Linked DNA regions of Homo sapiens: region 2 is linked to region 1. The links come from fine-mapping of genetic effects on gene expression. A gene starts in region 1. The other region holds a variant in brackets. All regions are shown on one strand. Distances are from middle to middle.

Region 1 (14,794 bases):
TCTCCTCAGCCTTCATGCAGCAGCAACCTGAAAGCATAGGAGACGTGGGGGAAATCCTCTGCCCAGCAGGAGAAATTCCGAGATGCTTCCTGCAGTTCCCCAAAGGGGCTCCACCAGGCTGGTCACCTGGGATCCCCCCCCCACATAAACAACCTGCACCCACATCTCTACCTCTGCTCCCAGGGGATCCCATCTGTGATGCTTTCCTTCATCTTTGGGCCAGTCCAGATTGGGATCAGACCCACACTTACCCTCCACACACGTGCATACGACACGTGCATACAACACACACATGCACACAGCACACCATATGCACACAGCACCACATATATGCACACAGCACACACACACATGCACAAACCGCCCACACATGAATACAGCACACACATGCATATAGCACACACATGCACAGCACACCACATGCATACGCTACACACACATGCACACAACACACACATGCACACAGCACATGCATGCACACAGCATAAAACATACACCACACACATGCACACAGCACACAGGCACACAGCATAAAACATACACCACACACATGCATACACCACACACATGCACACAGCACATAGGCACACAGTACCACACATACAGCACACCCACATGCACACAGCACACACATGCACAGCACCACACACATGCATAGAGCACAAGAATGCACATGGCACCACACACATAGGCAGAGCACACATGCACACAACACATACATACACCACGCACATGCACACAACATACATACATGCACGCAGCACCAACATGCACACAGCACACACACATGTGCATAGCAGACAACACACACATGCATATACCACACACTCATGCACACAGCATCACATATATACACACACGTGCACAAAACAGCGCTACATACACAAGCATACAACACACACACATTACACACATGTGCTGCATACACATGCATAGAACACACCACACATTCACACAAGTGCACATACACATACTGCATATACCATGCATGCACACATGTGCAAATCCATATACACACACACACCCTCTCTCTTGCTCCTCCCAGCCCAGGCTCAGTGGGTTGGCAGCCCTGGACTGTAAAGGATCATTAAATGTGGCCCCCTCCCGTGGCTGACTATAGGATGACTTCTCCTGGAGCTCTGCCCTTGCAGTAACTTTGGAGGGTTTTCACCAGACCAAGAATGGACGAGTTACGGGTCGGCTAATAAAATGCTTTGGCCAGAGCCCAAAGTTCTGTCCTCAGTGTTTCCTGATTTTATTGGTGAACTTGCTCAGCAGCCTTGCCCGGTGCCCCTTCCCTGAGTCACGTGCTGTGGCTGTGCCAAGCATCCCGGGCAGACGTACTGCAGGGCCTCACAGGCTCCTGCTCTGCGTAAGCGCCTGCAGCTGCTGGAGCCCGTGCTGTCCTTCCTTCCTCCCTGAGGACCCGCACCAGGCAGGCACCCGCAGGCCCCGCTGCCTCCAGACCTCCTCCACATGCCCCTGGCCCCACAGTCCCAGCAGGTGCTGTCTGCTGTGAAGGGGCTCCTCGCCCTCCTGGGAAAGGTACCCCATTCATCCTGCCAGGACCCCTGCCATCGCTGTCACTTCTCACACATTCTCCTATCTCCCATCATCCAGTCCTGTGGCTTCTCCCCCAGAAACAGCCCTCAGGTCTGCCCCATTCCCTGCCCCCTGCCCAGGTCTGTACTCATCAGCTCTCCCCTGCCTGCCAACTCCTCGTGGGCCTGCTGCCTGTCCCTCGTGGCCACACCCAGTGAACAAGGACTCCAGCCCCACTAACCCAGTGCTGCGTTGGTGGGGCACACTCAGGTCTCCCAGAGTCACACGTGTGCAGGATGTGCCATCCAGGCCAGGGGCAGCTACGCAGGGGCTGAAGGTGCTGGGAAAGGCCTCATGGGTGTCAGGACCCCTACATCTGGGGACAGCACCACCCCCTCCTGCTGGGGGTGCTGCTGGCAGAGCTGCAGCCACACCTGCCCCTGTGTCGACACCCAGAGGACAGGATCCAGCTCCTTGCCCACCTGGACACCCTGCCTGGCCCTGTTCCCTTCCACCTTGGCTCCAGCCTCTTTTTTGCAAAAACAATGCAAAGTCCATGCCAGCCACAGGGCCTCGCCCTTGCTATTCTCTCTGCCCACGGTGCTTTTCCCAGACCCTGTATGGCCAGTGCCTTGTCTGATGTGCCTGGAGAGGCCCTTCCTGGGCCCTCCCTTCTAAAGCAGCCCCACCGCACTCAACCACCTCCCCAGTATGGCTTCCTTCATGGCGCTCGGCGCTCTCCGAAATGATTGTTTTTACTCTTTTGTTTGTATGGTTAGTTTTCAGCCTCCCTTCTCTAAACCATGAGTTCCAGGGGGCAGGAACCCCATGTCGGGCTCTCTGCTATATTCCCAGCACCCAGCATGGTGCCCGGCACACATAGGCCCTAGGTAAGTGTCCACCCAATAGATGTCTCAGGGCAGTGGTGGGGTGAGGGGAGACTGAGTTGACGGCCCTAGGGATGGCTCACCCTCTGTCCCAATGCCCTCACTCAGGGATTAGCCCCGGGGCACGTTCTGGAGTGAGAAGTTGGGTGGGCAGGGTAGGGGCTGGGCAGGAGAGGTTCCTTGCTAGAGGGCACTCCTGGGTGGGCTATGAGGGGGCGGGAGCAGATACCTCCCAGGGCCCAGTGGTGGCACCTGCAGCCAGGGTCCCACAAAGCTGGAGGCTCAGGGCAGAACTCCACGCTGGCCGCGAGGCTCAAAAACCTTCCTGGTGTTGCATGAGCCGCGACTGCAGCTCATGCGTCTTCCTCAGCACAGGCCCAACTCTCGGCAGCGATGGGTCTGGCAGGGAGAGGACGCAGGAGACCTCAGGGGACACGGTCTTCTCCTTTGTCCCAGAGCAAAGCTCTGCCACCCTCACCCCTGTGGGACACGGAGCTGTGGCCATGAGCTAGTCCACACCCATGTTCCAGTTGCCCTGGCCTCATCCAAGCATCCCCTACCCTGCTCCCAGCAGGGCAATCATGCTTCAGTGGCCCCAGCCACTTGCTGGAGAAAGTTCTTTATCAGGGGACAGCAGCCTTTGCTCACAGAGCAAGGGTGAGCTGGGGAAAGACTGGCCTCACCACCCTGACCTGCACTTGGTTAGGAGGGCCGCTCAGTGCTGCCCAGACCCCAGAACAACACAGCTGAGTGGGTCAGCTCTTCTGAGGTGCCTCTTGCGGCCTCTCCTCCTAGACTCCTGGCTTCCTCCAGGCGACACCCTGGGACTGGACCTGAGGCTTAGGGGCATAGGGTGATAATCGGAGAAGATGCAGGGAGGGCCCAGTGCCTGCACCCTGAGGCGCATCTGTCTATCTGCTGGGAGCACACTGCTCACCCCTGACCAAGTGCCTGCCTCTGTTCCTCCTCCCTTTCCCCACACCTGACCCTTGGTCTCAGATGTCACCCTCCCTAGGGCCAGCCTCTGGCCCTGGCCCTGGCCCCAGCCCTGCTGTCTCCCTGCCTAGCTACCTGGCCCACATTCATTCTAATACATCTGTATGCCCTAGGCAGCTGCCTGCTCTCTCCAGGACTCAGTTTCCCTAACTGTTCAAGAAATGGGCTGGACTGTTGTTCTTAACCTGTCCATTCTTCCAGGAACAGCCTTCACGGAAGCTTGGAACAGCACCTTACTCCATCCTCAAAGCTGACACAGGACTAACTCTGCCTCAGCTCTAGTGAGACGACACCCAGGCCTGCTATTCCTGCTCCCTAGGTCTTTGGAAATGGCCTGAGCTCAGCTCCTCGGAGCCTGTGTGTGGCAGCCGCAGGCTGTCCTTGCAACTATCAGGCAGCTGTGCCCTCTCTGAGGTGTCAACCCAGGGCCATTCTGCCACAGAAAGACTGGGAGATAGGGGAGGCCAGTTTCTATGCACATAGGTTAAGTACCTGGATCTAGCCATTCCTCTAAGCAGTAAACCTTGGCTTTTTATGATCCACAAACCAGCTTTTTGCTCAAGCTGGTTGGGTTGAGTTTTGGGCCACATCTCATCAGGCAGGTCCTGACTAAAGCAGAGTGAGGTGAAGGCAGCTGGAACTTCCGTGTCGGGTGGGGACTTGGAGAACTTTTCTGGCTAGCTAGAGGATTGTAAATGCACCAATCAGCACTCTGTAAAAACGCACCAATCAGCACTCCGTGAAACGGACCAATCAGCAGGACATGGGTGGGGACAAATAAGGGAATAAAAGCTGCCCGCCCACCCCTCGCCAGCCAGCAACAGCGGCGACCGGCTGTGGTCTTTTTCCCTGCTGTGGAAGCTTTGTTCTCTTGCTCTTCACAAGACATTTTGCTGCTACGCACTCTTTGGGTCTGCACCACCTTTTTCTTTTCTTTTCTTTTTTTTTTTTTTTGAGATGGAGTCTTGCTCTGTCGCCCAGGCTACAGTGCAGTGGTGCAATCTCTGCTCACTGCAAGCTCCACCTCCCCGGGTTCACGCCCTTCTCCTGCCTCAGCCTCCCGAATAGCTGGGACCACAAGCGCCCACCACCAAACCTGGCTAATTTTTTTGTATTTTTAGTACAGACAGGGTTTCACCGTCGCACCACCTTTAAGAGCTGTAACACTCACTGCCAAGGTCCCTGGCTCATTCTTGAAGTCAGCCAGACCAGGAACCCAGCGGAAGGGACAAACTGCGGACACAGGAGGACAGGTGTCCTGACCTCTATGCTGGGACCAACCAGGGAACTTTTCACTGAAGACCCAGTTCAAGGAGGCCACTGGATCCTGTTAGAGCCCCTCTCCCTTTCTAAAAGTGAAATCATGCATCGCCATCCTCCCAGAACCCCGGTGTCTTCAAAGTGGTGTCCACCCTCCCTGGGGGCCACGGGAGAGCGCCGAGAAGGTTGGGGAGGGGGGGTGTCCACCCAGGGATGTCCCATTGGGGGACACAGACAACCTAGGTGGCCAGTCCAGAGAACCGGGCCGGGCCCAGTCTTGAGGAGAGAGGGTGAACTGGGTTTTGGGGCGCCAGAGGCCCACCAGGTGAGGTGTAGGCTGGGGCAGCTGGGGCGCAGAGTCCGCCAGGGTCCGCGCGCGGGAGGGCAGCGTCTGACGGCCCGAGCGGGTGGTCCTGGCGCGGGGGGCCAGCCGCCGCGGAGGCCTGAACGCAGGGCGGGACGCTTGGCTCCGCGGCCGGGGCACGGAGGGCCCTGGTGTGCAGCGCCGCCCGCGGGCTCCCGCAGCTCCACCCCCGCGCCCCGCCCGCTCCGCGCTGCCTGAGTGCCACGAGGGGGCGCAGCGCCGCGTTGCTCCGGGGCCGCCGCCAGGCGCTCGTGCGGGCTGCGCTGGGAGCCGGGCGGTCGGGCGGCGGCGGCGGCGGCGGCGGCGGCGGCGGCGGCGGCGGGCGGCGCCCCGGTCCGCGGCGCCGAGGCTCGCACCGGGAGCTGCCCATGGGCCGGGCCCGGAGTTCCGGCGCGCCGGGAGCCGGTGAGTGGTGCGCGGCCGAGGGACACCTGGCGGTGCGGGCAAGGGCGCGGGCTCGCGGGGGCTGGGGAGGGCTGCCGGCGGCGCGGCGGGGTCGGCGGGAGGCGGGAGGCTGCGCGCGGCGCGGGAGCGTGCGCCGGGGTCAGCAGGGGCGGGGTCCGCGCGGCCGCCGGGACTGGAGGCGCGGGGGTAGCGGGTAGGGTACCCTGAGGGCACACCCCCGGCCACCTGGCGGGAGACCCAGCTCTGCCGCGCGCCGCCAGCCCCTGCTGGGCGCGAGGAGCAAGCTTCTTTCAGCCGCTAGAGTGGCAGGAAGAGCCAGCCTAGACCAAAGCCTCCACCCGCACCGGACCTCAGTTTCCCCGTCTATGAAATGGGGACGGGAAAGCAGACCTGCCGGTGCACGTGCAGAAGGGAAAGGGCCTTGCGCCTGGGGGAAGAGGGTGCTGTCACCCTTGAGGATGGGATCGGATTTGAGGAAAGGACCAGCGCCACTATCAGAGGGCCTGCGAGAACAGTGGGGTCTGCTGGGAGTCCTGGGTGTGTCCCTCACGCAGTGACAGCGGACGGCATCAAGGGACCACCTGGTCCACTCATTGTATTTAGATTGGGAAAGCGATGCTTGGGGGGACTTGGGGAAGGGTGCTGGCGACGCCGCCCCATGCTCAGCGTGGGCGTGGGAAACTGTGGGAAAGACAGAGCTGGGAAGTTGGGGTGCTGGTGGAGCTCTTCCGGGCCCGTATCTCCTGCCTCCTGGGGCTGTGGGAGAGACAGAAGTTCTGAGCCCCGGGAGCCTGAGAAGAGTCCTGGGAAGCTCTGCCTGCCAGGCAGGTGGAGTAACTGAGGTTTAGAGAGGGGCGGGACCATGGAGTGGCAACGCTGGGGTCCCACCTCTGGTAAGACTGGCTCCAACAGCCATAGTGCAGCCACTGTGCAGGCGACCGGTGGAGGGGGGCTAGGGTTGTCCACTCACTGGCCACATTCATTGAGCGCCTACTGTGTGCCGCCTGCTGCCTGCCCCCGTAAGTGCTCACTAGCTGGTGTGGGAGGGGACACCAAACAAGAAATCAAAGGCAAAAGCAAGGACATGGCCAAGATCTTATGCGTGCTGGGAAGAACATGCAGTAGGGTGACTGGGGCAGAGGGAGACCAGGGCGCGGCGGAGCCTTCGTCTGGTCAGGGAGGCTGTCCTGAGCGGGGAGCCCAGCCTGTGATGGACGGGTAGCCCGGGGGAACAGCGCGGGTGAGATCCCTGAGGGCAGGAGGGGGCGGAGCTGGAGCTGAGACGCTACAGGGTCTGGACGTCCTGGGCAGCCCCCAGGCGGTTTGCAGGTTGGGCGTCGAAAGGCTGCCCGTGGCGGCGGGTGGGCGCACTGCCGGGGCAGGAGAGGGAGGGCAGGCGAGAGAGGGACGGGCTGCGGAGCCCAGGGCGGGACTGGCGAGGGGGAGCCCGCAGGCCACCAGGTAGAGGTGGGGCCCTGCCCGGGACCTGGCCCTTTTCAGGCCGGGGTCTGCACCCTCCTGCCATGTCCCCGCCAGTCTCTGAGGTGGTTCCAGCTCTCACTTGTACCTGGACCCAGATCCAGAGTCAGCCATTTGTCCAAGGGGCCTTGGTTCCTTGCGTGGGACCCGGGCTTAGTGTGGGGCGTGCACTCGCCGCCTCTAGGCCTTGTCAGTGGACCAAGCCAAGGCCCCTTTTTTACTAAAAATTAATATTTCCTTTCCCTTTCTCCTGCAGTGAGAACCTTATTCCCCCAAACATGAATATATTTCATCATTTACTTAGCTCCACAATGCACCCCGAAAGAGTTTCAGAATGACTGCATCCACACCGAAGCCAACCAAAACCTGCTAGGTCAGCATCGGGATTTCCACGGGTGTGCAGGCAGAGTGCTGTGTGGTGACGTTATCAGTCGGACACACTGTTAGCTTCGTGTGTTTCTACTTGCATTCAATTTGGAGCTTTTTTTCCTTTAGACTTTAGGATGTAATTTTATTTTTTGAATACGTAAAACACATGGTTTAAAGGTCAGAACTATTAAAAAGCTATCCTTAAAGGTCTCAGTCCCACCCCTGCATCTTCTTCCTTGTTCCCACACCATTGGGAGCCATTTAAAATATTTTCTGGTTTATCCTTCCTGTGTCTCTTTCTGCAAAACAAGTCATTTAAGCATTATCACAAAAGTTAGCCGTACAGCTCCTGGTTTTTCTTCAGTTAGAAGTATGTCCTGAAAGTAACTTCTTACCAGTTCATGGAGACCTGGCTCATTCTTTTTTACACTCACATAGTATTTCGTTCTGTGGCTGTACTATTATTGTTTATTCAAATTATGTCCTCTGGATGAACAATTTTGTTTTTTTCCAAGTCTTTTTAAATTTAAAATAATGGAGTAATGGATAACTTTGCACCTATATTGTTAATGTTTGCAAAGGTGTATATTTAGAACACACTTCTAGAAGTAGGAGTGAATGTGGATTTATTTTGTTAGCTAGTCCCAAATTCCTTGTCAAGAGGTAGCACCGTTTTGCATTCCCACCACCGATGTATCACAGTGTCTTCTGTTTCCCCACAGCCTCGCTGGTTTGAGAGCTGAGAAACAGTATTTCAGTGTATTTTAAATTTATATTTCTATTATTATAAATGAAATTGGACATCTTTTCACATAGATTTGGAATCATACTTAGACTTTTCTAACTATGAAAAGCCCAATTATAAAGCAATCATCTGTGTTTTCTAATATTTGTTTAGTTGTGTACTTAGTCTCTGCATCCAATTTAATCTTTTTCTAAGTGTCTGGCACTCTGTCCCAAAGCCATTTATTTAAAAGGTCATCTTTCCTCCAGTGATCTGAAATGCACCTTTCTCATACACTAAAAATCCAAGCCCTGGGCCTGTTTCTGGGCTTTCTAGTGTGTCTCACAGGTCTGTCTGTTCCATCTGTTCACATACTGGTGAAAGAGAGAGAGAGAGAAAAAATATATTTAAAGGCAAGGAGGGCCTGGCACAGTGGCTCACGCCTGTAATCCCAGCACTTGGGAAGGCTGAGGCAGGCAGATCACTTGAGGTCAGGAGTTTGAAACCAGCCTGGCCAACATGGTGAAACCTTGTCTCTACCAAAATATATAAAAAATTACCCGGGAATGGTGGCACATGCCTGTAATCCCAGCTACTTGGGAGGCTGAGGCATGAGAATCGCCTGAACCTGGGAGGCAGATTTTGCAGTGAGCTGAGCTGAGATTGTACCCCTGCACTCCAGCCTGGGCAACAGAGTGAGACTCTGTCTCAAAATAATAATAATAATAATAATAATAATATTATAATAATGGCAAAGAGGACTTTATTCAAGACCATTGCAATAGAGGAGAGAGATTGGGCTCAACTCTCCTTGTTGTGTTTTAACATGTGGTGGGCAAGTTCCTTCCATCGCTTTTTACTGCAAGGATTTCCTGGCTGTTGCAGCACGTTGCTGCTGTTCGGGCGGGGAAGGAGAGCGTATTAAGTTTATATTAGGCTTGTATATTAACTTTAGGATAATTGGCATCTTTATGAAGTTGAGTTATCTTATCCAAAACTGAGAGATGTCTTTCTGTTTGTCAAGACTACTTCTAGGAGTGTTTTGAAATTTTCCTCATATATGTTTTTCCTATTTCTTATGAAGTTTATTCATGAGTATTTTTATCTTGTGTGTTGCTACTATAAATGGTTTTTTCTTCAATTATATCTTTGAATTGGCTACTGTTTCGTGTATGTTATTTTATATCTTTCTGTCTTACCTGAATTTTTATTGTTAGTTTTATTGTTAGTCTTTTTTTTTGTTTTTATTTATTTATTTATTTATTTTGAGACGGAGTCTCGCTCTGTCACCCAGGCTGGAATGCAGTAGCGTGATCTCTGCTCACCACAACCTCCACCTTCCAGGTTCAAGTGATTCTCGTGCCTTAGCTTCCCAGGTAGCTAAGATTACAGGTGCCTGCCACCACGTCAGGCTAATTTTTGTATTTTTAGTAGAGACGGGGTTTTGCCATCTTGGCCAGGCTGATCTCGAACTCCTGACTTCAGATGATCTGCCATCTCAGCCTCCCAAAGTGCTGGGATTACAGGCATGAGCCACCATTACCGGCCTGTTGTTAGTCATATCTTTGATTCTGTTAGTCATTCTGTCATCTACAAATTCAAATAGCTTTACTGCTTCTCTACTGATTTTTATGCTTTCTTTTATCTAATTAAATTGGCTGAATACCTCCAATTCAGTATTAAATATTGGATGTGGTGGGCCTCCTTACCTTGTTCCTGACCTTAGTAAAAAGGCCTCTAATACTTCCCCTATTAAGAAAGATGCTGACTTTAGGATGGGAAGAGATAGATAGATGAGATAGATAGATAGATAGATAGATAGATAGATAGATAGATAGAGGAATATCCATTGACTCCTATTTTATTGGCAGTTTTAAAAATCAGGATTGGTGTTGACCTTTGTTAGAGCCATGTATGTAGATAATGATCTGATATTTCTCCTGATTACTAGTAGCATAATGAGTCATGTGATGGATTTCCCAATATCAGGTCTGGGACTAGGCTGAGGTAAACAGACACAAAACGTATGAATATTAACACTAGGCCATCTTTGCATTTCTGAAATAAGTCCCACTTGGACATGATGTAGAAAATAGTTTGGCAGTTTCTTTAAAATTTAAACATAAAAATACCATATGACCCAACAGTCCCACTCCCAGGAATCTAAGAGAAATGAAAACAATGAAATGTCCACACAAAGACTTGTACACAAATGCTCATAACAGCATTGCTTATAATGGCCAGAAAAGTAGAGACAACGCAGTTGTTCATCAACTGGTGAATAAATAAACAAGATATATATCCGTACGATGGAATATAGTTTAGCAATTACAGTTGGCCCTTGAACAATGAGAAGGTTAGGGATGCTGACCCCCACACAGTCAAAAAGCTATGTATAACTTTTGTCTTCCCCCAGATTTCACTTTGTTGTTGTTGTTGTTGTTGTTTGTTTGTTTGTTTTTTGAGACAGAGTCTCACTCTGTCGCCCAGGCTAGAGTGCAGTGGCATGATCTCGGCTCACTCCAACCTCTGCCTCCCAGGTTCAAGCGACTCTCCTGCCTCAGCCTCCCAAGTGGCTGGGATTACAGGCGTGCACCACCATGCCCGGTTAAGTTATATTTTTGGTAGAGATGGGGTTTCATCATGTTGGCCAGGCTGGTCTCGAACTCCTGGCCTCAAGTGATCCTCCCACCTTGGCTTCCCAAAGTGCTGGGATTACAGGCGTGAGCCACCGCGCCCAGCCTGTAGTATGTTTCAATATCATTGTATTAGTTATCTATTGCTGTGTACTAAGTTATCATTGACCTAGTGGCTTAAAGCAACGCATGGCTTATTAGCTCATCATTTCTGTGAATCAAGAGCCTGGGCATGGCTTAGCTGAGTACTGCTGGTGGCCAGCACTAGGTTCTCATGTAGAGACTCAGCTAGGGAAGGATTTGCTTCTCCACTCATGTGGTTGTTGGCAGTATTTAGTTCTTTGTAGTTATATTTAGAGCTTAAAATTTTGGCTGGATGTTGGCTGGAGGCCAACCTCAACTTGTTAGGGTCACCCCCAGTTCCTCGGGACTACCCACAGGTCTTTGTCACATGGGCTTCCCCAGCATGACTGCTTACTCTATCAAGCCAGCAAAGAGTCCCTAGAGAGTCATAACATAACAAAACATAACATAGTATAACGTGACATACATGATATAACAACGTAACATAATCCCAGTAGTGATATCCTATCATCTTTGCCATAGTCTGTTGGTCAGAGGAAAGTCAAAAGCCCCACCCAGTCCCAAATGTATGAACACCAAGAGGTAGAGCTCATGCCGGTGAGCACCATAGAAACTGCCTGTTGGATGTTGGATTCTGATTACTAATATTTATTTTTGCCAAAGTTTTCCCAGTCACCCTTTGACTGGACAAAGCTTAGCTTCTGTTGGTTCCTTAAGAAAGACTTGTGAGTACTGGCCAGGCGCGGTGGCTCACACCTGTCATCCCAGCACTTTGGGAGGCCGAGGCGGGTGCATCACGAGGTCAGGAGATCGAGACCATCCTGGCTAACACGGTGAAACCCCGTCTCTACTAAAAATACAAAAAATTAGCCCGGCGTGGTGGCGGGCACCTGTAATCCCAGCTAGTCGGGAGGCTGAGGCAGGAGAATGGCGTGAACCCGGGAGGCGGAGCTTGCAGTGAGCCGAGATTGTGCCACTGCACTCCAGCCTGGGCGACAGCGAGACTCCGTCTCAAAAAAAAAAAAAAAAGAAAGACTTGTGAGTACTGTTATTTCCTGCTTGCTTGCTTTCTATACTCTTGCTACTTGAAGGATAGATTGGCAGGTTATAAAATCCTTGCCTCTTACTTTCTGTCCCTAAATTTTTAAAAATGTTGTTATGGGTTGTATTGCTTGTACATTGTTGACAAGATGTCTGATATAAACATGCCTTTCTTTCCTTTGTAAGTGACTTGATTGTTTTTCTGGAGCTCCAAAGAATTTTTTTTCTTTATTTTTAAAGTTTAATCATTTTACTAGGCATTCTCTTGGAAATGATCTTAGGTACGTGGGGGACTCTTTGAATATGCATATTTAAGTCTTCTTTTATTTCTAAAACATTTTCTTAGATTATAGTGTTAAATATTATGTACCATTATTTTACCTTTTTTCTTCAGAGATGCCAATAATATGTTTGTGTTAGATCTGTTTTTCATCTGTATTCTAGATTGCTTTCTCTATGAATTTTATTTTTGTTTTATGGTTGTTTTCATTAATTTCCTTAATGAACACTATTAAGCTTTTAGTCAAATCTGTTCTCCCTAAGAGATTTTCTAATTCAGTCTTCATTTCTGAGATGATGGTCTTTTCCTCATTTTTTTTCATGAGTTCAGGCAACTCTAATTTCACATTTACCTTTTTTTGGGTCCATTTCTGTTGAGTTTTTGAATGTATAATGTAGGGATTTTCTTCATGTGTCTGAATTTTTAGTGTGTCTTCATCTGTTCATCTGTATCAGAAACTGGGTTAGTTTACAAACAACAGAACGATTTCTCACAGTTCTGGAGGCTGGAGGTACAAGATCAAGGTATTTGGTGAGGGCCGCATCCTGGTTCGCAGATGGCTCCTCTCCTCACGCCCTCACATGGAGGAAGGGACAAGGGAGCTCTCTGGATCCTCTTTTCTAAGGGCACTAATCTCATTGATGAGGGCTCTGCCCTCGAGACCTAATCTCGTCACAAAGGCCCCCGCCCCCAAATGCCATCACACTGGGGACTACGTTTCCATTATAAATTTTGGGGGACGTAAACTTCCAGACCATAGCATTAGGTAATTCAAGTTGAGGTGTTGCGTGTGGTTTTTCCCTTTGTAAATTGGGGGTTTGTGGGAAGGATTAGTGTCGGCTCTTTATACTGGCTTTGTATGGATATTATCTGTTAACTTAGAGATGTCTTAATTTGCCTGGACTGGTGGTAACAGATGGCTGCAGGCAGGAGCTGGGGGCTTGGGAACCGTAGTAGGTTTCTTAGTGTAAGAGCGCCCTCTCCTGTTGTTGTTATGAAGTGCACCATTTTCTTGTGCTTTGGGAGGCGGGAGTGGACTTGTGTTTTCTGAGTTTACAATATTCACTTTTGCTTCCGTAGGTCCTTGAATGTCCAGGCTTGCTACTTCCTGTCTGTTACTAGCAAGCCTCCGAAGGCTGCCTCTACTTCCAGGCCACATGCCTGGCCCCTAGAAGCAGGGCCTTCCTGAGACAGCCACCTCCGGGCTCGAATGCTGTCTCCTTTCAGTTCCCCAGCCGCCAGTGCTCTGACACCCACCCTCAGGCGTGCTCTGTTTCCCCATGTAGGGTGGGACTTTCTTCTTCTTGTTTTTATTTAGAGACAAGGTCTCGCTCTGTCACCCAGGCTGTAGTGCGCTGGTGCGATCACAGCTCACTGCAGCCTCCAACTCCTGGGCTCAAGTGATCCTCCCACCTCAGCCTCCCGAGTAGCTGAGACCACAAGCACCTGCCACCACACTTGGCTAAAGGACTTTCTTTTTTTCATAGTTCTTGGTCCCAGCTCCCCTCTCCTCATTCCCACAGTGCCTCTCCCTGAGCCCTCACCCCACCAATGCCAGCGTGGGCCCTGGAGCCGGTTCTGAAGGTTGGCTTTCCTCGCCCACACCAGTTAGAGGAGCGCGCGCCCTGTCTCCTACTCATGCTGGAGGCATGGGCATGGATGGTTTTATTTGCTCTCCTGCTTGGTCCATATTGGCTTTTACCAAGGAGAGGATTGGATTCAGGTGGCCACCATTATCTCTGGGGACCTAGAGATGTCTGCAGCCTTTTTACTTGAAAAGCTCCATAAAGAATGGTGTACTTGGCTGGGCGCGGTGGCTCACGCCTGTAATCCCAGCACTTTGGGAAGCCGAGGTGGGCGGATCACAAGGTCAGGAGATCGAGACCATCCTGGCTAACACGGTGAAACCCCGTTTCTACTAAAAATACCAAAAAAAAATTAGCCTGGCGTGGTGGCGGGCGCCTGTAGTCCCGGCTACTCGGGAGGCTGAGGCAGGAGAATGGCGTGAACCCGGGAGGCGGAGCTTGCAGTGAGCCTAGATCGCGCCACTGCACTCCAACCTGGGCGACAGAGCAGGACTCTATCTCAAAAAAAAAAAAAAAAAGAATGATGTACTCTTCATCTCTTCATCTATTAAATAAATCCATCAATTTTTTTTTCCAGCTCTGTAGCCCAGGCTGGAATGCAGTGGCACAATCTCAGCTCACTGCAACCTCCGCCTCCCAGGTCCCGGTTCAAGCAATTCTCCTGCCTTAGCCTCCTGAGTAGCTGGAATTACAGGCACATGCCACCGTGCCCAGATAATTTTTGTATTTTTAGTAGAGACAGGGTTTCACCATGTTGGGCAGGCTGGTCTTGAACTCCTTACCTTGTGATCCACCCGCCTCAACCTCCCAAAGTGCTGAGATTACAGGCGTGAGCCACCACGTCCGACCCGATTTTTAACACTTTGGAACATTTGCTCATTATTTTTACTAAGCCATTTAAGAGTAAGCTACAGGAATCAAGACATCAGCATCACCTTAGAACACGGAAATTCTTCTAGGAAACCACAATTTGAATGCACGTTCAAGAAATTTAATATGAGCCAGGTGAGATCACTGATACCTGTAGTCCCAGCGCTTTGGGAGGCTGTGGTGGGAGAATCGCTTGAGGTCAGGGGTTCAAGGCTACAGAACAAGATCCCATCCGGGAAAGAAGGAAGGAAGGAGGGAGGGAGGGAGGGGA
Region 2 (14,794 bases), 30 kb after region 1:
GATGGAGTTTTACTATGTTGACCAGGCTGGTCTCAAACCCCTGACCTCAAGAGATCTGCCAGCCTCGGGCTCCCAAAGTGCTGGGATTATAGGCATGAGCCATCACACCCGGCCGGCTGTTTATTTATTTGATCTGAAATCTATTCTGAAATCTATTTATTTATTTATTTATTTATTTATTGAGATGGAGTTTTGCTCTTGTTTCCCAGGCTGGAGTGCAGTGGTGCCATCTTGGCTCACTGCAACCTCTGCCTCCTGGTTCAAGCGATTCTCCTGCCTTAGCCTCCCAAGTAGTTGAATTACAGGCATGCATCACCACACCCGGCTAATTTTGTATTTTTAGTAGAGACGGAATTTCTCCATGTTGGTCAGGCTGGTCTTGTACTCCCGACCTCAGGTGATCCACCTGCCTCAGCCTTCCAAAGTGCTGGGATTACAGGTGTAAGCCACCATGCCTAGCCTTTATTTTTTAATTGTTTCATATGTTTTTCCTTGTATCTTTTTTTTTTTCTGACTTCTTTTGAATTAATTGGGTTTTTTTTTATGATTCTAGCTTATGTCCTTTGTTGATTTTTTAAGCTATATCCCTTTGCTGTGTTATTTTAGTGCTTAATTTAGGTATCATTCATTGCATTACTTTTCTGTTGCTACCCAAAACATTAAACCGATCTTGGTAATGTAAAACACAAATTTATTATTTTAGAATTTTCATGAGTCAGGGGTTCAGGGTCTCACAAGTGTGGGGCTTGGGTCTCATCTGTGTTTTAGTGTCTTCTTCCAAGCTCATGTGGCTGGTGGCAGAATTTATTTCCTTGCCACTGTAGACTGCATGGTGGCTTGCTTCTTCAAGACCATCAGGAGAGTCTCTGATGCAAGTATCTGACCTTTTTTTAAAAAAGCTTATCTGTTTAGGTTACACTCATGCAGCATAATTTCCCTTTTGATGATCTCAAAGTCAACTGATTACAGGCTTTACTTAAACTTGCAAAACTCCCTTCATCTTTGCCAGATAACATCACCTAATCACAGGAGTGACATCCATCATATTCACAGTCCTGCCTATACCTAAGAGGAGAGGGGATTGTATGGGGTGTGTACACCAGGGAGTAGGAATCCAGGGCCATCTTAGAACTCTTCTGACCACCACAGCTTGATCCCAGTCTCCCTCCAGGTGATAGTGAGAGGTGAAGCCAGCTGGACTTCCTGGGTCCAGTGGGGACTTGGAGAACTTTTCTGTGTCTAGCTAAAGGATTGTAAAAGCACCAATCAGCACTCTGTAAAAACGCATCAATCAGTGCTCTGTGTCTAGCTAAAGGATTGTAAAAGCACCAATCAGCACTCTGTAAAAATGCACCAATCAGTGCTCTGTGTCTAGCTAAGGGATTGTAAAAGCACCAATCAGCACTCTGTAAAAATGCACCAATCAACACTATAAAATGGACCAATCAGCACTCTGTAAAATGGACCAATCAGCAGGACATGGGCAGGGACAAATAAGGGAATAAAAGCTGGCCATCCCAGCCAACAGCGGCAACCTGCTGGGGTTCTCTTCCAGCTGTGGAAGCTGAGTTCTTTTGGTCTTCACAATAAATCTTGCGGCTGCTCACTGTTTGGGTCCGCGCCACCTTTAAGAGCTGTAACACTCACCGTGAAGGTCCGCGGCTTCATTCTTGAAGTCAGCGAGACCACAAACCCACCGGAAGGAAGAAACTCCAGACACACCACCTTTAAGAGCTGTGTAACACTCACTGTGAAGGTCCATGGCTTCATTCTTTTTTTTTTTTTTTTTTTTTTTTTTTGAGACGGAGTCTTGCTCTGTTGCCCAGGCTGGAGTTCAGTGGCGCGATCTCGACTCACTGCAAGCTCCACCTCCCGGGTTCCCGCCATTCTCCTGCCTCAGCCTCCCGTGTAGCTGGGACTACAGGCGCCCGCCACCATGCCCGGCTAATTTTTTTTGTATTTTTAGTAGAGACGGGGTTTCACCGTGTTAGCCAGGATGGTCTCGATCTCCTGACCTCGTGATCCGCCCGTCTCGGCCTCCCAAAGTGCTAGGATTACAGGCGTGAGCCACTGCGCCCGGCCCATGGCTTCATTCTTGAAGTCAGCGAGACCACAAACCAACCGAAGAAACTGTGGTCTCAATAGTGTGCTGCTGCATATATAGCATGAAGACATCCTGCCAGTGGCGTTCATGCTCCACTCAGCCTTGTGTTTGTATCACTTTCCTAGGGCTGCCTTAACAAAGTGTCACAGACTGGGATGGCTTAAAACAACGGAAATGTGTTCTCTCATTTGGAGTTCTGGATCAGGGGCTCATGGGACACATTCCCTCTGAACCCAATAGAACCCTTCCCTGCCTGTTCCCAGCTTCTGGCGGCTTGTTAGAAATCTTCTGCATTCCTTGGCTTGAAGCCGCATCACTCCAGTCTCTGCCCTCAGTGTCACATGGTGCTCTTCCTGTGTGCCCACGTCTTCTAAGGTCATTAGTCATGTTGGATTAGGAGTCCACCCCACCCCACTCCACTCCACTCCAGTGTGGCCTCCTCTTCACTCATTACATTTGCAGTGACCCTATTTCCAAATAAGGCCTCGTTTTGGAGATATTGGAGGTGAGGACTTCAGTCATCTGTTTAGGAGGGACTCAGTCCAACCGACGACAATGCTAGTGTTGTCATACATCTCTTTTCCACATATTTATAAACCCCACACTACAGTATTATTTTTGCTTTAAACACTCAAGTATGTTTTAAAGGCATTTTTTAAGTCTTTTATGTTTACCTGGTAGCTGCCATTTCCTTTGTCCCTGATCCCGGTGGGATTGCAGCCCAGCAGGACTGGCACATCCTGGGGAGGCACTGCCTGACTGCCAGTGATGGGAGGGGCAGAGCCCCAGGCTAGTAGTCCGCAGCCACGTGGGGTTCCTGTTCGTCCTCTTGCTCCTGCATTTAGGACAGGTACCCACCTGGGCGTGACGCATTTCGAGTTTCGTGTGAACAGTGATTGATAGTGCCCTGCGTGGTGATCCCTCCCATTTCTAGTTTTGTGTGAACATTGATTGATAGTGCTGTATGCGGCGATCCCTCTTGGTGTTTCTTTGCAATTGAAATTAAAGGGTTAGTGGGTGAAGAGGGGCACAGGTGGACTTTTCAGGGTCTGGAAATGTTCTGCTTCTCAATCTGGGTGCTGGTGGCCTGGTTCACTTCGGAGATCTCATCTAGCTGCACGCTTCAAGCTTGTGTGCTTTCCAGGATGTAGGTTATACTCCAGTAAAAAGGTAAACAACACAACCACAGCCATGCTGGCTGAAAAGAGAAGCTGGAGGCACCAGGGCCCCTGCTTGTGGCAATGGGTTTGGCCGTTCCTTGGGCAGGAGCCAGGTCCTGGGGTGCTCCCACCGATGGCCAGTCTGGGGCAGCGGCTTTGCTCCTGGCACCTCTGGGCAGGGACCTGGGACTCAGGAGCAATGACATCTCTGAAAGGACTCTGCAAACTGTGAAGTGAGGTACACACATGTCAGACTGCAAATTGTTAAGTACTGTGCACATGTCAGTCTGACTGCAAACCAAAGCATGGTGCACCGGCCAGTTTGTCTTCTGACTGCTTTGGGTCGTGGAGCTCGTCTCAAACAGCAGCAGTGGTGGCACTGGCTTTAGGAAAGAGGCAGCTTTGTGGCTGTCATAAATCTGACAGCAGCGGCCAGGCCACCCTTTCCACCAGCCTGCATGTGCACAGCTGACTTGGAGTCAATCAGACCTGCTCTTTGTCGAACTCAAGCATGCCCTAAATGCTTCTACTTGTTATTACCTCCACAGACTGAGAGTGGCTGGAGAGAGAGGCAGCTGTGCCCGCTGCCTTTTTGTGTAATTGGCTGCTGGCTTTCCCCCCAGAGCTGCTGGTGGATGTGCTACAGGCAGTGTGAGCAGGCCACCGCCTCCCAGGGCTTGGGGTGGCCCTGGCCTGCCCCCGCCTAGCTGGCAGCTCCATCACTGCACTCCACCTTCTCTCTGCCCACTCGCCCGGTCCTTCCTTTCCTTTGTGCTTTTCTTTCTGTTGGTAAAAGTAATAAAAACTCGTTGACGGACGCAAAGCCAGGAATGTAGAGAGGGTAAAGGAGGAAACTGACACCTCTTACTCCCCCAGTTCCACATCATGAGTCTGCTATCATTTAATGTACACGACTTATCTCTGGGTACACGGAGATGTACGTTTTTGTTTTGCAAAGATCCATTCATCCGAAGCATAGTGTGCATTGTTTGGCTTCTCTCCTTCAGTAGCTCAGAGCTTCTTCCTCAGGGTTCCTTTCAGTATTCCTTGAATGGAGAGACCACAGTTTGCATACCTGACGCCCAGTGGCAGGACGCGTCTCCTTCCCAGCCTCTCGGCAGCGTGGGAGCCTCCTCACCCTGGCAGCTGCTGTATTGATCACTGCTTTCTTGCTGGGTTAGCTCCTTAGGGTAATTGCTGGGTCTGAGGTCAAAGGTGTCGGTGCAGGCTGGTGCAGGCTGGCTTCTGCCTTCACGCCCCTGTCCTGGGTTGGTCTGCTCAGCACACCATGGGTTCCCTGGGCTGCTCCACTCCCTGTGCACCACTGGCCCATCCATCGGCCCTTCTCTCCTGAAATGCTGCCCTCTGGGCTTCCAAGCCCCCTCCTGTCCCTGGGCTTCCTGCTGCTCTTACCTCCCACCACCCTCTACTCCCTTCTCCCTGCAGCCTCCCTCATCTCAGACAAGTCACCCAGGTGGGTAACGCACAAACCCCGGGGGCTGAGTGCTCCCTTTATGTCAGCAGTCCCCCTCCTGCATCCAAACATCAACACGGCCCATGCACGCCACCCTCCCAATCTGCGCAGAATGCAGGCACTGGGCTGCATGCCCCTGATTCCAGCTCGATCCAGACCCACGACTCTCCCTCCAGCCCCAGCCCGTTCTTCACTCAGCAGGCAGAGACGCTGCAGGACTATCCCATGGTCATAAACCCGCCTCCTCCCGGCCCCAGGCCCCATGGCCGGGGGCCTCCCTCATCCTGCTTCAGCCCTCAGACCTTGCTGTCCTTGGCTTCCTCCCCACTCCGCTCCTTGGCACCTGCGCCCCTCCCCCCCCAAGAACATTCTCCAGTCCCTTCTGCTGTTGAATTTTAGACCAGCTGTCCCCTCCACATATCAGCCGGGGGTGCATTAGGCCCATTTTACATATAAGGCTGTCTGAGGAAAGTGACGCCCCGGGGTCTCATGGCCAATAAGGACCCCGCCCACATCTGCGCCGTGGTCTGCTGCGTGGAAAGCCGGTGATGAAAGCCAGCAGCAGCTGGTGATGGTGCACTTCAGAGCTGGGGTGTTAGGTTCTTTCTATTTCAAGTGGAGAAACCCACCTCAGACTTAAGGACTCAGAAAACGCATTTGCTTCTGTAAATAAAAAGCCCTGGGATAGCCAGTCACGGTGGCTCACACCTGTAATCCCAGCACTTTGGGGGGCTGAGGCGGGCAGATCACTTGAAGTCAGGAGTTCGAGACCAGCCTGGCCAACATGGTGAAACCCCGTCTCTACTAAAAATACAACAATTAGCCTGGAGTGGTAGTACATGCCTGTAGTCCCAGTTACTTGGGAGACTGAGGCAGGAGAATTGCTTGAATCCAGGAGGCAAAGGCTGCAGTGAGCTGAGATCACGCCACTGTACTCCAGCCTAGGTGGCAGAGTGAGACTCGTCTCAAAAAAAAAAAAAAAAAAAAAAAGCCAGCCGGGTGCAGTGGCTCACACGTGTAATCCCAGCACTTTGGGAGGCTGAGGCAAGCAGATCACGAGGCCAGATAGAGACCATCCTGGCTAACACAGTGAAACCCTGTCTCTACTAAAAATACAAAAAAAAAAAAAAAATTAGCCAGGCTTGGTGGTGCACGCCTGTAGTCCCAGCTACTCAGGAGGCTGAGGCAGGAGAATCACTTGAACCTGGGAGGCGAAAGTTGCGGTGAGCCGAGATCATGCCACTGCACTCCAGCCTGGGCAACAGAGCGAGACTCCACCTCAAAAAGAAAAAAAAAAAAAGCCCAAGGTGGGCTTCAGGCATGGCTGGATGTGGGACATGGTCTCGGTCTCTGTGAGTCTTGGCTCCGTTTCCTCCATGTGGGCCCCTTTCACAAGAAAGCCCCCACCAGCTCCATACTTACTTCCTGTCCTTACCTTGCCCTGAGCAGAGAGAGAGGCTCTGCTCAGACAGTTCAAATAAATGTCCCACGAACTGAGTCTGGTGGCCCACCCAGGTGACATGCCTGCCCATGGATTTATCCCAGAGGCCAGGGAGATGAAAGGCACTGAGTGGCTGGGCCTGGATCACATGCCATCCCAACTGTCACAGACCAACGCAACTCCTTCCCCAAGTGGCACCAGGGCCATGTCCTCCTACCACGGGCAGGAGAGGAAGGACAAATGGGCTCTGTTTTCAGAGGGAAGAACAGATGCTGGCCAGGCAGAAGCCGCAGAGGCCATGGCCTTGGACAGCTGCAGCAGGGCTGAGCCTTGGCAG[G/C]GGTCCCGGAAGGAAGCCCGGGGCTCTGCCCTGCCCGTGGACTGCTGCGGCCCAGCCGGGCAGATTGCGCAGGCACTCACCGAAGAGCTTTTGCTGGGGCTGCTGGGACTAAGGAAGGTTAAAAATGGAGCCGATGAACAGCCTGTGTCTTTGGGGAAGCTGCTGGGTGAGCCGGGCAGGCCAGCCCCTTCACTGGGTGGGGAGGTGGGGCCGGAAAGGGAAAGCAGCCCCTGGCTTCGGGGCTGAGGGGCTGATGTGCACATGGTTTGAATGCATCCTCTACTCGGCTGGACGTTTCTGGAAGTAGCCCAGCCAGCCCCCCATCCCACTGCCCCTCATCCAGCCCCTCCGTCAGGCTCTGAGAGTCTCACCTCTCACCCTGGTCCTCCTCCATGCTGGCAAAAGTTGCCGTCCCTTGGAAACCCCTCGTCTGCAGCCCTCTCCTCTGGGAGGTTGACCAAGGTTGGGTGGGAGTTGGAGGCCAGGCCAGGGGCCCTGTCTTGGGTTATGCCAGGGGGAGACATGGGCAGGACTGACCACTGCCCAACCCTGACGGCTGGCACCACGCAGCAGTCATGCTTTCATAGCTTCTGCTGTGGCTGAATCTTTCTGGAAAAAAGTATTAGCCCCGGGACCAGGCGCGGTGGCTCACGCCTGTAATCCCAGCACTTTGGGAGGCCGAGGCGGGCGGATCATGAAGTCAGGAGATCGAGACCATCCTGGCCAACATGGTGAAACCCCATCTCTACTAAAAATACAAAAAATTAGCCGGGCATGGTGGCAGACGCCTATAGTCCCAGCTACTCGGGAGGCTGACACAGGAGAATGGCGTGAACCCGGGAGGCGGAGCTTGCAGTGAGCCGAGATTGCGCCACTGCACTCCAGCCTGGGCGACAGAGCAAGACTCCATCTCAAAAAAAAAAAAAAAAAAGTATTAGCCTTGGAAAGCCAAGGCCCTCTGTTACCTGAGTGGCACAGCTGGGCCCGCACAGGCAGCCTTTCCCCTCTGCCTGGTCCTGGCAGGGGCAGGAGGGTGCGATGGATGGCGCGGGGCCTGCCTCATGCAGAGCCCAGAGCAGCAGAGACTTGGCCAGAAGTCGTTATTGTGGTGACTGGATTGATGGGCTCAGGTGAGGCTGAGTCTTCGCAAGATTAAAACAGGCACTCAGCGTGGCTGGGTCAAGTGCCCTCCCACGGCTGCTCTGCCTGCCAGAAGCCTGCAGGAGTGGGGAGGCCTGGGGCTGGGGCCCCTGCCTCCAGGGCCCACCTGCTCTCTGGGAGGCATGGCCACCAGGGCCCAGGCCAAGGGACTTTTGTCTAAGAGACCCCAAACCAGGAGGTCCTGAAGTCCACCCTATCCAACATCCACGTGTCCTTGTCTCCTTGTGGCCAGCGATGTGGCCTCTTTGGGTTGGGCTGATGACTGAACACAGTAATGCAGCATTGTCACTGTCTCTAGCCATTATTATGTGTTTCTTTGAATACCTTTCTTTTTTCTTCGAGACGGAGTCCCGCTCTGTCGCCCAGGCTGGAGTGCAGTGGCGTGATCTCCGCTCACTTCAAGCTCTGCCTTCCGGGTTCACGCCATTCTCCTGCCTCAGCCTCCCGAGTAGCTGGGACTACAGGCGCCCGCCACTGCGCCCGGCTAATTTTTTATATTTTTACTAGAGACGGGGTTAGCCAGGATGGTCTCAATCTCCTGACCTCGTGATCTGCTGCCTCAGCCTCCCAGAGTGCTGGGATCACAGGCGTGAGCCACCGCGCCCGGCCCTTTGAATACATTTTTAAAGGCATGTCACTATTGCATTAGAGCTCATAGATATTCTTGGCGGGGAGAAGTGGTCGTTTTAAACTGTGGATTGATGCGGGGGACATGAGCATGTGAACAACACAGGGACTGCTCAGGCTCGGGAAATGTCCCGAGTGTGGCCCTGGAGTGGCTCCTTCAACAAGCACCGAAATGCAGGTTCATGGCCTGAGGGTCCTGAGCCCAAGGCCGGGCTCTTAGCAGGACTCAGGGGGCTGCACATGGCAGGTGTGCCCAAGAAGCCCCAAATCTGAGACTCCTTCTCTGCTTGAAGGAGCTGGCCAGGATGAGTCTGGAGAGCAGCAGGGCTGCTCAGGAGCTGGGGCGAGGCCTGGGCATCTGCATTTTCCAGAAGCTCCTCTGGCGTCTGGGGGCCTCTGAGCATGCTGAGGGTGGGCACAGGTGTCCAGTGCCTGCCCTGCACAGAAACGCCTTTCCCCGGCGCTGGGGGGGCTCCAACCCCAGAGGCTAGGCCAGGCTGGCTTCTGCAAAGTTGCCCATAGCCAAGTGACCTCTTACACAGGACTTGGGTTCTCACACCATCTGCTCCTGGTCTGGAGTGTCTTCCAGGATGGCGGCTGGGTCCCTGGTGTGGAGCCCTGGGCAGCAGGTGCTGGCCGCTGGGGCCTTTCCCCACCTGAGCTGCCAGGGTCCCTCTGTGTGGAGACCCTCTCAAGTCTGAAGCAGAGTCCCTGTGCCTGGCAACCCTAAACCCACTCTCAGAAGATGATAAAACCCACTATCAGTTCAAGTCTGCAAGAGGGGTGGGACAGTCTCGTGACCTCATGTTCTAGCTGAGTGACATACATAGCACAGGTCGGCCCCTCTCTCTGAGCCTCGGTTTCCCTTTCTGGGAAAAGCAGATCAGAGAACTGCTGCGCAGTGAAGTCAAGCAGGAACCGGTCACGATCGTGTGTGCGATCTGTGCGCATGCTGTCTGAGTGCTGGCTGTGGACCACAGCCCAGAGAGGGGCCTGCACCCAGGATTCCATGTGGAGCCACTGGGCTGGGGGTTCAGATGCACCCCACACACACATGCACGCACACACACACACACACACAGACACACACATGCGTGCACACACACACACACGTGCGCACACACAGACACACGTGCACACACAGACACACGCACACACGCACACACAGAGACACACGTGTGTACGCGCACGCACACACAGACACACACGCGCACACACAGACACACATACACACAGACATGCACACACGCACATGCACAGACACACACGTGTGCACATGCACGCACGCACACACAGACGCACACACATGCATCTCTGACAAGGGCCTTTTCTCTGCCTGCTTGAAGTTTCTGAGGGAAGCCAGAGAAAACAGTATGTTTCTTTGTTTTATCATAAACTGATGACTTCATCTTCCCTCGTTCTTCCCAGAAAAGACGATGACGAATTTGTTAAAGTTTAGCTGTGAGAGCCTCTTCTTATAGCAAGAATGAGAAGTATTTAAATGGCTCCTTGCTTTTTGGAGTTATTTTCAGATAAACAGTCTGCCCGAAGTCACTCAGCATTCATCAAGCCCACACCACGGCCCAGGCTCCATGCACTGAGTGTTTCTCTGGTGCCCACCGTCTCCAGGCGGAAGGAGCCCCCGAGAGCAGCAGCGAGGAGGACCACACTTCCCCAACTTTCTGAGACCATCCCCACGTCTGGGCCCCCCAACCCCTGAGCCTCCATGTCATGGATCACAATGAATGAAAAATTGCGCAGGTTTTTTTTTTTTTTTGGTGGTTGTTTTGAGACAGTCTCGCTCTGTTGCCCAGGCTGGAGTGCAGTGGCACAATCTCAGCTCACTGCAAACTCCGCCTCCCGGGCTCAAGCGATTCTCCTGCCTCAGCCTCCCTAGCAGCTGGGATTACAGGCGCCCACCACCACGCCCAGCTAATTTCTGTATTTTTAGTAGAGACGGGGTTTCACCATGTTGGCCAGGCTGGTCTCAAACTCCTGACCTTGTGATCTGCCCACCTTGGCCTCCCAAAGTGCTGGGACTACAGGCGGGAGCCACCGTGCCCGGCCAACTGCACCAGTTTTAACTCATTCCCCCAAATTTGAAATTTAGGGGAGAAATGAAATTCTTTTCTCTTTCAATTCTTATTTCTCTGTCATTTAAGATTTTCCAGACCTTGACAGATACATCTCCAGCTAGAAGGAAATGGCCCCAGGGAGTGACGTCCACATAGCTGCTTCTGCTTAGACAGCTGTAGTCAGTGTGGGATCTGCCTTCCCCACCTCAGGGTCCCCTTCATGGCCTACACCCTGGGCAGCCACAGAGGCTTTGGTCTGGAAACCGGGTGGCAGGCTTAGGTGGGGCAGAGGGAGCAGGTGACGGAGACAGTGAGGTGGTGGCATCCCCAGGTCGAGGGGCAGCCCTTGGTTCTGGCCAACAAACAGTACCAGGCAGGAATGCAGGCCCTGTGTAGCTGGCTCTTCTGAGTTTTTGCAGGAAAGCAGACGCACTGATTCTCCTGAAAGGCCCCAGTGTGTAAATAAGGCCAGTAAATTCGCAGTCTAAAAGGGCATTATGCAACCCATGCAGGACACCCAGGCGGCTTGTCAACTGCAGGTGACTTAACTGGAGCAGGCAGGAGAGCCAGGCAGGGTGCCGCAGGTCCTGCCAGGGGACAGAAGGGCCCCAAGGGCTGTGCTCAGCTGCCAGGGTCAGGTTGGGGCAGAGGAAAGGAAGATGCATTGACCCTCAGGGCCTCAGCTGGCAGACTGGCAGGAAAGGGCAACCCAGAAGAGGATAGAGCATGGGCAAAGGCATGGAGGCGGGAGCACAGGGAGAGGCACAGGGAGGTGAGGAGCACAGGGAGGCAGAGGACAAGGGAGGTGAGAAGCGCAGGGTGGCAGGGAGTACAGGAGGCAGGGGGCACAGAGATGAGGAGCACAGAGGAGCCCAGGGAGGTGGGGAGCAGGTGGCAGAGGTGGCCTGGCCTCCCCTCTTGGGGAGCTGGGCGTGAGAGAAGGGCTGGGAGCCCGAAGCTCTGGGGTGGAGCCTCAGGCAGAGATTCTGGAGAAAGGACAGTACAGACCTGGCTCTTTGCCAGCTGGGGCTGGAAGGCCCTGGCAGACACCCGGGGCTAGGCTTTGTGGGAGGGTCTGAGAGAAGTGGCGGGCAGGCAGCATCTGGAGTGGAGTGTGCCACAGATTCCGTGTCAGGCTGCTGTGCCCCCTGTCCCTCTGCCCCTCAGCCCTCATTTCCTTGGCTGCCTCATGACCCCTGGGCCCTGGTCACATGCAGGAGAGAGGCCAGGGGAACACACGCAGCAGTAGAGAGCTGGGCATCCCAGGCCAGGTGGCCGTTCCTGCCTAGGAGGAGGCATGGGAGCCTTCCTGGAGGTGGCATCTAAGGGCTGGGGGAGCAGGTGGGAGGGACCACCAGCCATCTGGGCATGCTGGGGCCCTGAGTGCTCAGGCAGGCTTGGGACACCCAGTGGCTGCTGTTGCCCACTGTGCTCTCATCACAGGGAAGGTGGCCCTGCCCGTCCTGCCTGGCCTACCTTTAGGTGAATCGGACAGGGTAGATGGGCAGGGCAGAACACACAGATCTATTTATAGCTATTGAGACTTTTTAAACACTATTTTTATTCCTATGAATGTAAGGGTAGAAGTGCAGATTCCTTGCGGGTGTCGGCCTTTAGTGCACCCACTGACCCCACCCCTAACCCAGTAGGCCCACCTATAGCATGGGTCTCGTGAGCCCACTTTACAGATGTGGAAGCTGAGGTCCGACAGCTGAGGGGCCCGCCCCACAGCCAGGCAGCGGAGGAGACCCCAGTGGGCCCACACCCTGGCTGCCGAGCAGGTCCTGGCCCTCACAGCCTTACCTCCCAAGACCACTCTTTGAATTGACTCCCAGAAGCCGCAGGGAGAAAACAAAGCATTTATTTTTGCTACGCATTCGCTGTTCTCCAGAGTGCCGAAGGGTGTTTGTCAGGAGGTGTGGGTGACACACGCCATCACTTGGAGACAGAACTGGCTATTTTTGCCCTAGACTCTGGCATCCCTGCAGGGTGCCCACTGCAGTGTGCAGGTGCTCAGGCAGCTCACGCTGACCTGCGTGGGGACAGAGCCTGGGACCCAGGGGCTGAGTGTGAGTGCTGTGGAGGCCTGCCCTGGAACAGACAATCCACACGTGTGACAGTTATTTCAGCACGTCCCTCGGCCTCGGAGGTGGGCTCTGAGGGTGCTGGGGTGCTTGTCACTGCGGGGTCTCCCATCTTCTCATGGGCGGGTTGGATTCCCCGGGCTGTAGGAGGAGGTGCTTGTTAATGTCCTTTTTCCACCAGTCTTCAGGTCTGAACACGAGGCTGCTGCTGTGGCCTCTGGGGTCAGCAGTTTAGGACCTGCCCTCCCTTCCCCAGAAACAGGTCACACTTCTTCCAGATCCTCCCAAGCAGAAAGTCCCGGGCTCCTGCAGCTCAGAAGCCTCAGACCCTAAGCTCCTGAGAATGGTTTTCCTCCCTGTGCTCCCCTGGCTCCTTCCCCCTGAAGATGTGAAGCCCTCGGGGGTCCCACTCCTGGGCTGGGGGAAGGCCACAGGATGCCTGGATGGGGGTGCCTGGCTGCACGCGTCTCACACTGTGGTCCCTGAGTCCTGGAACTCCGGCCGCGTCTTCTGACCTGGGCCATCTGCATGCTCTCTGGGATTCAGGGCCTCCAGTTTGGAGCAGCAGCGCTGACAGCCCCTCCTCCCCACTCTCCAGGCAGGGAAAGGCCCCCAGGGCAAGGTGGGGACAGGGGACAGGGGCAGGGGCAGGGAGCCCTGCCTGCAGGCAGACCCACACCTGCCACCAAGTTCCGACTTTGGCCCTGAAGACAAGCGGAGCAGGACCGGGGTATGCCACAATGCACCTGTGAAGCCTGTTTGGCTGTCGGGGCTCCGAGGCAGGTGGCCAGGCAGGCAGGCCCGGGAGGGAGAGGTCTGGTGGCCCCATGCAGGACTGGGGTAAAGGGAGAGCACCGCTGGGGGGCCAGGTGTGGCTCGTGACTGCCACAGGGACCTCCGGAAGGTTCGATGAAAGAGGAAACCAGATGGTGACTTTGGCAGGTCTCAGGAGGGCAGTGAGCCTGGCCAGGGCGGGGGCTCCGCGGGGACAGGCGAGGACCAGGCAGCAGCTGCGTAGCGCGGGGGCTGGAAGGACAGTACCCCTCGGCTGGGGCGTGGGGAGTTGAATGAGACGCTACAACTTGCGTCCCTGGCCCTGCTGGCTTCACACATCTCAGAGCAAGTGGGATTTTCACACAGAGCCCGATATTCATTCTCGTGGTAAATAGGACGCTTGTTTTCTCCCTCACAGAACAGGCCCGCGCCCCTCCTTGCAGCTGCCTCCTGGCTGGCGGCCCTATGGGAGCAGCCGGGTCACCTCTGTCAGCCTCAGCCCTGGCCAGGGCCTCCTGAGCTCTCGGCCCCTCCCCTGCTGCCCGGCTTGGTCCCCTCCCGCATCCCGGGGGCCATCATTCACTCACTCACTCATCCACTCGGCCAGGAGGCTTTTGCTGAAACCTGCTCTAGTGCTGGGGTGCAGCCGCGAGCAGGAACAGGCAAGGTGGTGCCCCAGTGGAGCTCCCAGTCCCTGGGGAGACACATGGATTTGGATTTGGAGAAAAGCCACGAGGAAAATGAAACGGGGTCCAGGGTGGAGAGCGGCTGGGCAGCCAGTGCCGTGTGGAGCAGTGGTCACGGAAGGTCTCCGAGGGAGGGGCAGGCAGAAGCCCTGCGGAGGCCTGGAGCAGGGAGCCCAGGGGGAGGACAGCAAACACGCAGCCCCAGGGCGGGAAGGCAGCCTGCACAGGGGGAGGGCGAGGGGAGAACTGAGGCTGGGCCAGAGAGGCGGGCTTGGAGCCCCATGGGGTCGGGGGGTGGGTGCTGGGGGGTGCGCATGGGGCTACGAGAAGGGCCAGGGCAGGTTGTGTGACGTAGCCAATGAGGGTGCAGACCAAGTCCCCACGCTGTGCTGGGTACACAGGCTCACAGCCTCTCCATGCTCATGATCCTTGTTGTGCATAGGGAAAACTGAGGCTCAGTGAGGAGCCCGCCCCCCTGCCCCCACTGCTCACGTCCCCCAGCCCCCTCTCCCAGCTGACCAGCAGCCCTCTCCAGACCTTCCCCTTGGGCCCTGTTGCTCAGAGGACCTTTCCTTCACTTCACTCACTTCCTCTAGTGGCTGCCTCCAAAACCCATGGGCCCCTGCCCCCAACCACTGCATTTGTGAACGCTGCTTCCAGGAGCAGACACTGGAGCCCCCTTCAAAGGGGCCAGGGGATGTGTTCCAAACAGAGGGAACCATGAAGGCCCTTACTCCGAGGCGAGGTGGGAGTGTGGATGGCCTGTTCGGGGCGCAGCCAGCAGGGAGTTAGATCTGTTCTAGTCTTGCTTACTTTGTTTCATAAAATCAGCTCGTTTGTTAAAATAAATATATTTTGTAATGAAATATTA

Evidence for each region. PIP is the estimated chance that this variant, and not a neighbour inherited with it, causes the effect.
Region 2: its variant is fine-mapped to the expression of RASGEF1C in monocytes (TOPMed, PIP above 0.99).

Annotation. Positions count from the first base shown.
Region 1 is chr5:180,199,688-180,214,481 of GRCh38, reverse strand. It overlaps RASGEF1C (RasGEF domain family member 1C), which reads left to right and starts at 5,271. Exons shown (of 14, transcript NM_175062.4): 1 at 5,271-5,454. RefSeq lists a silencer at 5,136-5,355 and an enhancer at 6,480-7,272.
Region 2 is chr5:180,169,210-180,184,003 of GRCh38, reverse strand. The region is part of intron 1 of RASGEF1C (RasGEF domain family member 1C); the gene reads left to right. Among named protein-coding and RNA genes, the nearest start is that of RASGEF1C, 33 kb to the left of the region's middle. The variant G/C (reference allele first, on the strand shown) is at 6,517.